2 linked regions of the Homo sapiens genome follow. The protein of the gene in region 2 interacts with the protein of the main gene of each other region in a biochemical or structural test. Each region holds a gene or a part of one and is shown on either strand. Other genes may lie near its edges.

The links. The genes of interacting proteins can lie anywhere in the genome.
Region 1: the proteins of LIMK1 (region 2) and DGKK interact in a test that uses a peptide from one of them, tested with the Homo sapiens proteins (one large-scale study listed by IntAct).

Annotation. Positions count from the first base shown.
Region 1 is NC_000023.11:50,376,826-50,380,325, reverse strand, and holds part of DGKK (diacylglycerol kinase kappa), read left to right. Parts: intron 1-248; coding exon 249-345; intron 346-591; coding exon 592-699; intron 700-1,634; coding exon 1,635-1,748; intron 1,749-2,093; coding exon 2,094-2,228; intron 2,229-3,407; coding exon 3,408-3,500. UniProt on the Homo sapiens protein: Diacylglycerol kinase that converts diacylglycerol/DAG into phosphatidic acid/phosphatidate/PA and regulates the respective levels of these two bioactive lipids.
Region 2 is NC_000007.14:74,097,304-74,100,803, reverse strand, and holds part of LIMK1 (LIM domain kinase 1), read right to left. Parts: intron 1,773-3,500; coding exon 1,566-1,772; intron 1-1,565. UniProt on the Homo sapiens protein: Serine/threonine-protein kinase that plays an essential role in the regulation of actin filament dynamics. Acts downstream of several Rho family GTPase signal transduction pathways.

The sequences.
Region 1 (3,500 bases), on a different chromosome or scaffold from region 2:
GTAGCAAGCAGAAATGGAAAATTTATTTATTGATAGGATACTGAGGCTTCAAAGGGGCCCAGGAACCCATTTCTTCAAGTGTTTGCATTGGATATCAGTTACATTAACCGCTGTCCAGTTGCCATTTAGCATGACTCCTCTCTGTAAGAAGGCATTTGAGAAGTAAGATGGTTTTCCTTCCTGTCTTTTTCCACCATTTATCTATATATCATTCACCCTCTGCTTTCTTAATGCTTACCTCCATGTAGTAGCCGCCTTAAGAACAAGATGTGGTATGGCCTTCTGGGAACCAAAGAACTTTTGCAGCGCTCTTACAGGAAACTGGAAGAACGAGTGCATTTGGAGGTTAGTGGAAAAGCGGGTAGTCTTTCCTGGGTATGGAGAAAGGAAATCTCATGGCCTTGGGAATACCGTACATGCTGATTCTTCCTGAGCTTTAACTCTGTGATCCTCACAGCTCATGGGAGGAAGGCATGAAGATAGATTTCCATGTAATGGAAGAGAAGACAGAGCCCTTTCCCCATCTCTGTAAATGTTCCTTCATGTTGCTATCTAAAGATCCAGCTAATGAGAGCTACTCTTTTCTTTCAGTGTGATGGAGAAACCATCTCCTTGCCAAACCTGCAAGGCATTGTAGTGCTCAACATTACCAGCTATGCTGGAGGTATCAACTTCTGGGGAAGCAACACAGCAACCACGGTTAGTATGGAACAAGGAATGGGGAGGAAGAAAGGCATGATCCCACTAAGGTCTCTCTGAAGGAAGCATTGTGCTAACTGAAGTGAAAAATAGACAATGGGAGAAGAGGAGGTGGTCCGAGAACCTTTATTAGCAGCAGCTGTATGATCAGTTTTTCAGGCAATTACCATCCGAAAGCAGAAAATTCAACCAAAGACCTCAGGATAAGGTCAACTCGTAGGTGTTGCCTGGGCTTTGGATTTTCCATTCCTCGGGTCTGACAGATCCTTTAAAGGCTATCTAGACCATGCTTTTTTTTTTTTTTTTTTTTTGAAACGGAGTCTTGCTCTGTCATCCAGGCTGGAGTGGCAAGATCTCAGCTCACTGCAACCTCCGCCTCCCAGGTTCAAGTGATTCTCCTGCCTCAGCCTCCCGAGTAGCTGGGATTACAGGCGCCAGCCACCATGCCCGGCTAATTTTTGTATTTTTAGTAGAGACAGGGTTTCGCCATGTTGACCAGGCTTGTTGACCTTGAACTTTTGGCCTCAGGTGATCCACCCACCTTGGCCTCCCAAAGTGCTGGGATTACAGGTGTGAGCCACTGCGCCCGGCCAAGGCCATGCTCTTTTCTCCAAGGAATTCTGTCAGTAAAATCTCCTGGGATGCTGACCATGACCCCTTTACTCTGAGTTTACCCAAGAAGGTCATAAGGCCAATAAGACTGGCCTCAGGTATTTATGATGCTGGATTGGAAAAGGAGGGAACTGGCTAAGAGTGCAGTACCCTTTTCCCAGATTGGCTTTCTGACCTCATCTTTTTCCCTTTTAATAATGAAGTGTTTCCACTCTTCATGAGCTAGAAAAATTCTCACCAGGAGCCTTTAAACATGCCTTCTTGTTATAGACAGGGTGTGATTTCTCAAGGGTGGGAGATGTGACACAGTTCTTCCTCCTCAGGAATATGAGGCTCCTGCAATCGATGATGGGAAACTGGAGGTGGTGGCAATCTTTGGTTCTGTGCAGATGGCAATGTCCCGTATCATCAACCTGCATCATCATCGCATTGCCCAGGTAGGCAGGGGCTGGGTGGGCACTGGGAAGGGGCTGAGGTTTTTGACTGCTACCCAGGATGTGGGATAGTCCCAGGAATTAACTGGGTAGAAGAATGCCAGGGTGGAGTGAGCAGGTTATCTGGTGGGCAGTAAAGTGCTGACTGAGGTTGGAGGCAGAGGTGGCAGAAGCCAATGGAGCAAAAAGCCCATAGGAAACAGGCATTTCTTCCTGGGATGATCTGATTCACATCCTTTCCAGTCCTGCTTCAGATACACATTCAAGGCCATAACTATGAGATTATCAGATAGAGTTACAGCAGTTGCCCCATTTTTCTCTCCCATTCTTCCTCATTTTCTCTGGCAGTGCCATGAGGTGATGATAACCATTGATGGTGAAGAAGGTATCCCAGTGCAGGTGGATGGGGAGGCCTGGATTCAGAGACCAGGCCTTATCAAAATTAGATACAAGAACGCTGCCCAGATGCTGACAAGAGATCGGGTAAGGGGGAAAATCTTGTCTTGGGCTCCTATACTGCCTCATCCATAGTCACTTGAGTACTGAATATTTCCACTCAAGCAGAATTCCTCAAAAGGAGGTCTGTGTGCCCCTGGCATCAGAGTCACTTGAGATGCTGGTTATAAATGCATTCTTGGGCCCCCACACCAGACCCACTGAACCACATAGGGTTGCATAGTTCCCAGGAACCCAAATTTGCAAACAGGCTCCTCAAGACACTCTGATATATACTGACATTTGCAAACACTGTCCAAGAGAGTGAGACAAGGAGCTTCCTCCCCTGGTTTTCGACAAGGTTATCCTCCTCTTTCCACTGCAAAGAGAGCTAAAAGCGTCAGATGATTATGGAAAAATCTTCTCCTTCAGCAACAGATTCTGCATTGAACATGGTCTTTAGGTGTCTCTAAGGTTCCTTAAAATGCTGCATTAATACATGTCATCCACTTCAGCTAAAGCTTCTAAAGCTTATAAAGGAGCTATTATTGATCACATATTCAATGCTTGGAGGTTATCTTGCACTCTAACCTGTGAAAAGTCCATGGAAACAGCAATAGAGAAAGGAAGAGAAGTCCAGTTTATAAACTGCCTATTCTGTGCTAGGCATTTTACATTTCTCTCATGTAGGTTCTCTCCACAATCTTATGAGGTGGATACACTTATTCCCATTTTACAGATGAGGAAAATGAGGACCAGAGAGGTTAAATAATTTGCTAATGGTCACACAACTAGTAAATGACAGAAACACGATTCAAAATTAAATTAGATATGTTTGGCTCTAAACTGCATCACCACATATTGCCTACATTTGGCAAAGAAGGGAGCATGAAAGGTGCTCCACTGTCTTGTCAGTCATGATGCCTTCATATGGGAGCTTCTAGAAACCAGACATGTGTATGATCCAAGCCTGGTGTCCCAAAATCCAGCATACTCAGAACAACAAAAACTAAAGGGCATAGTCCAGAAGAGATTGAATAAAATGATGGATACTTGTATAGGTATATAGATGGGTATGACAGGGGGAATGGACAGGGGGCCCTCCTTCCCCTCTACCCACTGTACCCACATACCCATTGCCCACAAACGTCAGGCTCACAGACAGATCTGTCATGTGCACTAGTAGCTACAGCAATCATTAGGATATGCCACTGTATTCATCTCCAGGACTTTGAGAACTCAATGAAAATGTGGGAATACAAGCATACTGAAATTCAAGCTGCCCCTCAACCCCAGCTGGACTTCCAGGACTCTCAAGAG
Region 2 (3,500 bases):
AGACCACACCACTGCACTCCAGCCTGGGCGACAGAGCGAGACTCCGTCTCGAAAAAAAAAAAAAGAGAGAGAGAAAGCTAGCACTTGGGCCGGGCACGGTGGCTCACACCTGTAATCCCGGCACTTTGGGAGGCCGAGAAGGGAGGATCACTTGAGCCCAGGAGTTTGAAACGAGCCTGGCCAACATGGTGAAACCCTGTCTTTACTAAAAATACAAAAATTAGCCACATGTGGTCACCTGTAGTCCCAGCTACTCAGGGGGCTGAGGTGCAAGAATTGCTTGAACCTTGTGGGTGGAGGTTGCAGTGAGCTGGTATCACACCACTGCACCCCAGACTGGGCGACAGAGTGAGACTGTCTCAAAAAAAAAGAAGTGACCAATTGCCCAAAAGTAGAAACACTGCATGCTACTTCTCAAGGTGTCAATAAAGGCGCCACAGAAATCTTAGAAAGCTCCAAGGTATCCAACTCCCTCATTGTTCAAACAGACCCCCAAAGCCTAGAGAGAAAGCAGCTGCTCAAAGTCACACAGTAATCTAATCTTTATCAGCCCTGCCCCATTTTTTTGAGACAGGGTTTTGCTCCATTGCCCAGCCTAGAGTGCAGTCGTGCAATTATAGCTCACTGTAGCCACTTCCTGGGCTCAAGAGATCCTTCTGCCTCAGCCTCCCAAGTAGCTGTGACTACAATGTTTCCCAGGCTGGTTTCGAACTCCTGGCCTCAAGTGATCCTCCCATCTCAGCCTCCCAAAGTGTTTCGATTATAAGTGTGAGCAACCATGCCCAGCCTTTATGTGTTCAGTGATTTCACCATGCCTGGCTAATTTTTAATTTTTTTTTTTTTTTTGTAGACATGCAGGTCTCGCTATGTTGCCCAAGCTGGTCTCAAACTTCTGGCCTTAAGTGATCCTCTCACTTTGGCCTCCCAAAGTGCTGAGATTACAGGTGTGAGTTACTGCGCCCAGCTTCTTCACTCATTCTTGACTTGGTTCCTCCTCTTTCTTGTTGGATCAGACATGGACTAAAGAAAATGTCTTTTTATTTTTTGAGTGTGTTTTTTTTATTTTTATTTTTTTGATACAGAGTTACACTCTTGTTGCCCAGCCTGGAGTGCAATGGCAGTCGGGGCTCACTGAAACCTCCACCTCCTGGGTTCAAGTGATTCTCCTGCCTCAGCCTCCCAAGCAGCTGGCACTATAGGCACACACTACCATGCCTGGCTACGTTTGTATTTTTAGTAGAGACGGGGTTTCACCACATTGCCCAGGCTGGTCTCGAACTCCTGACCTCAGGTGATCCACCCACTTCGGCCTCCCGAAGTGCTGAGATTACAGGTGTGGGCCACCATGCCCGGTTGAAAATGTCTTTTTATTGTATCTGGCATTTGTAATGGTATTCAGAGGAATGACTGGGCCAGAAATCTGGCAAACCAGGTTGTCAGAACTGGGCCCCATCTGTACCCAAACACTCGCCCATTCATTTTCAGGGCCCCCAGTGCCAGACTCTGCCACCCACATCAACAGCCATAGCCACACCGACGGCAGCCTCGGCAGGCCGGCCACTCACCCCTGGACGCGGACGGTGTGTGAGTGCTCGGTGCCACAGCCCGGTGGGCCGTGCGGGGGGTCAATGGAGACTGAAAGTCCACGCTTGCCATGAGATGAGGCTGGGATGGACACCAGGGTGACGGTGTGGGGCAGGTGGGAGCCAGGGGAGTCAGGCAGGATCTGCTCGATGACGGGGGTCACCACAGTCTGGTAGTAGCAGTGCCCGCTGCAAGAGCCGCCGGGGTGGGAAGAAAAGAGTGTCAAGGGCGTCATCAATTTCAGCATCTCTGCAGCCCCCAGCCCCAGGCTCTTCCCCCAATCCCTTCCTTTTTTTTTTTTTTTTTTGAGATGGAGTCTCACTCTGTTGATTACAACACTGCACCCCAGCCTGGGTGACAAAGCAAGACTCTGTCTCAAAAGAAAAGGAAAGCTAGCAATTGTCCAAAAGTGCAGTGGTGTGATCTTGGCTCACTGTAACCTCCGCCTCCTGGGTTCAAGCGATTCTCCTGCCTCAGCCTCCTGAGTAGCTGGGATTACGGGCACGCACCACCATGCCTGGCTAATTTCTTATTTTTAGTAGAGACGGTTTCACCATGTTGGCCAGGCTGGCCTCAAACTCCAGACCTCAGGTGATCTGCCTGCCTTGGCCTCCCAAAGTGCTGGGATTATAGGGGTGAGCCACTGCACCTGGCCAGCTTTCTTTTCTTTCACTCTTCCTATGGAACTGGGAGCAGGAACTGTGCGTGCCCAGCCAGCCCTCGTCCCTCTGAGTCATTCGGGTCTGTCTACTCGCTGTGATCCTGTAAGGCGGCCAGGACAAGGCCTGAGGATAAATCCAGTTCAGGAGGAAGTCATTAAAAGCCCATCTGGGATCAAGCCACGTTGTCCTCTAATCCAGCTTGATCAGTGTTGTATAAGAAAGAATCTGTCTGGGTTTTGTCCTGATTCCTGGGAGGGAGACTCTAAGTCCTTGGAATGGGGTATCTTTGTTATTCATGAGCCCCTCAGACTATTCCTGAGTTGATACTAATGAGATGACTCAGCCCCGCAAAGATACATCATGTGATTTGAAGAGGGTTGCAGCTTTCATCCAGCCTGACCTCCAAGAACGGGGGCTAGAGACTAAGCTTGATCATACGGCCAATGACTCAATCAGTCATGACGATGTAATGAAATCCCAATAAAAACTCTGGCTGCTGAAGCTCAGTGAAGCTTCCTGGTTGGTGATCACATTGATGTGCTAGGGGAGGGAGGGGAGATGCTTCTTCATTTGGTCGGACCTGAGCTGTGTCCTTCATAATAAAACTGGGATAAAAATGGAGGATTTCCTGAGTTCTGTGAGTCTGTTAGCAAACGATCAAACTTGGCAGGGTCTTGGGAGTCCCTGAATTTGTAGCCAGTCGGTCAGAAGTGTGAGTGGGTTGGGGACCCCTGAACTTGTGGCTGGTGTCTAAAGAGGGAGCAGTTATGCTGGGGATGGTGTCCTTAACTTGTGGCATCCACCCCACCTCTGGTGGTTTGTGCCAGCACCATGCTGCAGTCATGGCCAGTAAGAAAGCTGACGTCTGAGGTTTTCTGTTTTGAGACAGAGTCTTGCTCTGTTGCCTAGGCTGGAGGGCAGTGGTGCAATCTTGGCTCACTGCAACTTCCACCTCCCAGGTTCAAGAGAGTCTCCTGCCTCAGCCTCCTGAGTAGCTGGGATTACAGGCACCCGCCACCACACCTGGTTAATTTTTGTATTTTTAATAGAGATGGGGTTCCACCATGTTGGCCAGGCTGGTCTTGAACTCCTAGCCTCAAGGGATCCACCCACCTCGGAATCCCAAAGTGCTGGGTTTACAGGCGTGAGCCAGCATGCCTGGCCGTCTGAGGCTTTTTCACACTGACTTCTGTGTGTTATTTCTCACTTGTTTCCATGCCGGGATGGGAAAGGAGATATGAACATTTGCCCCAA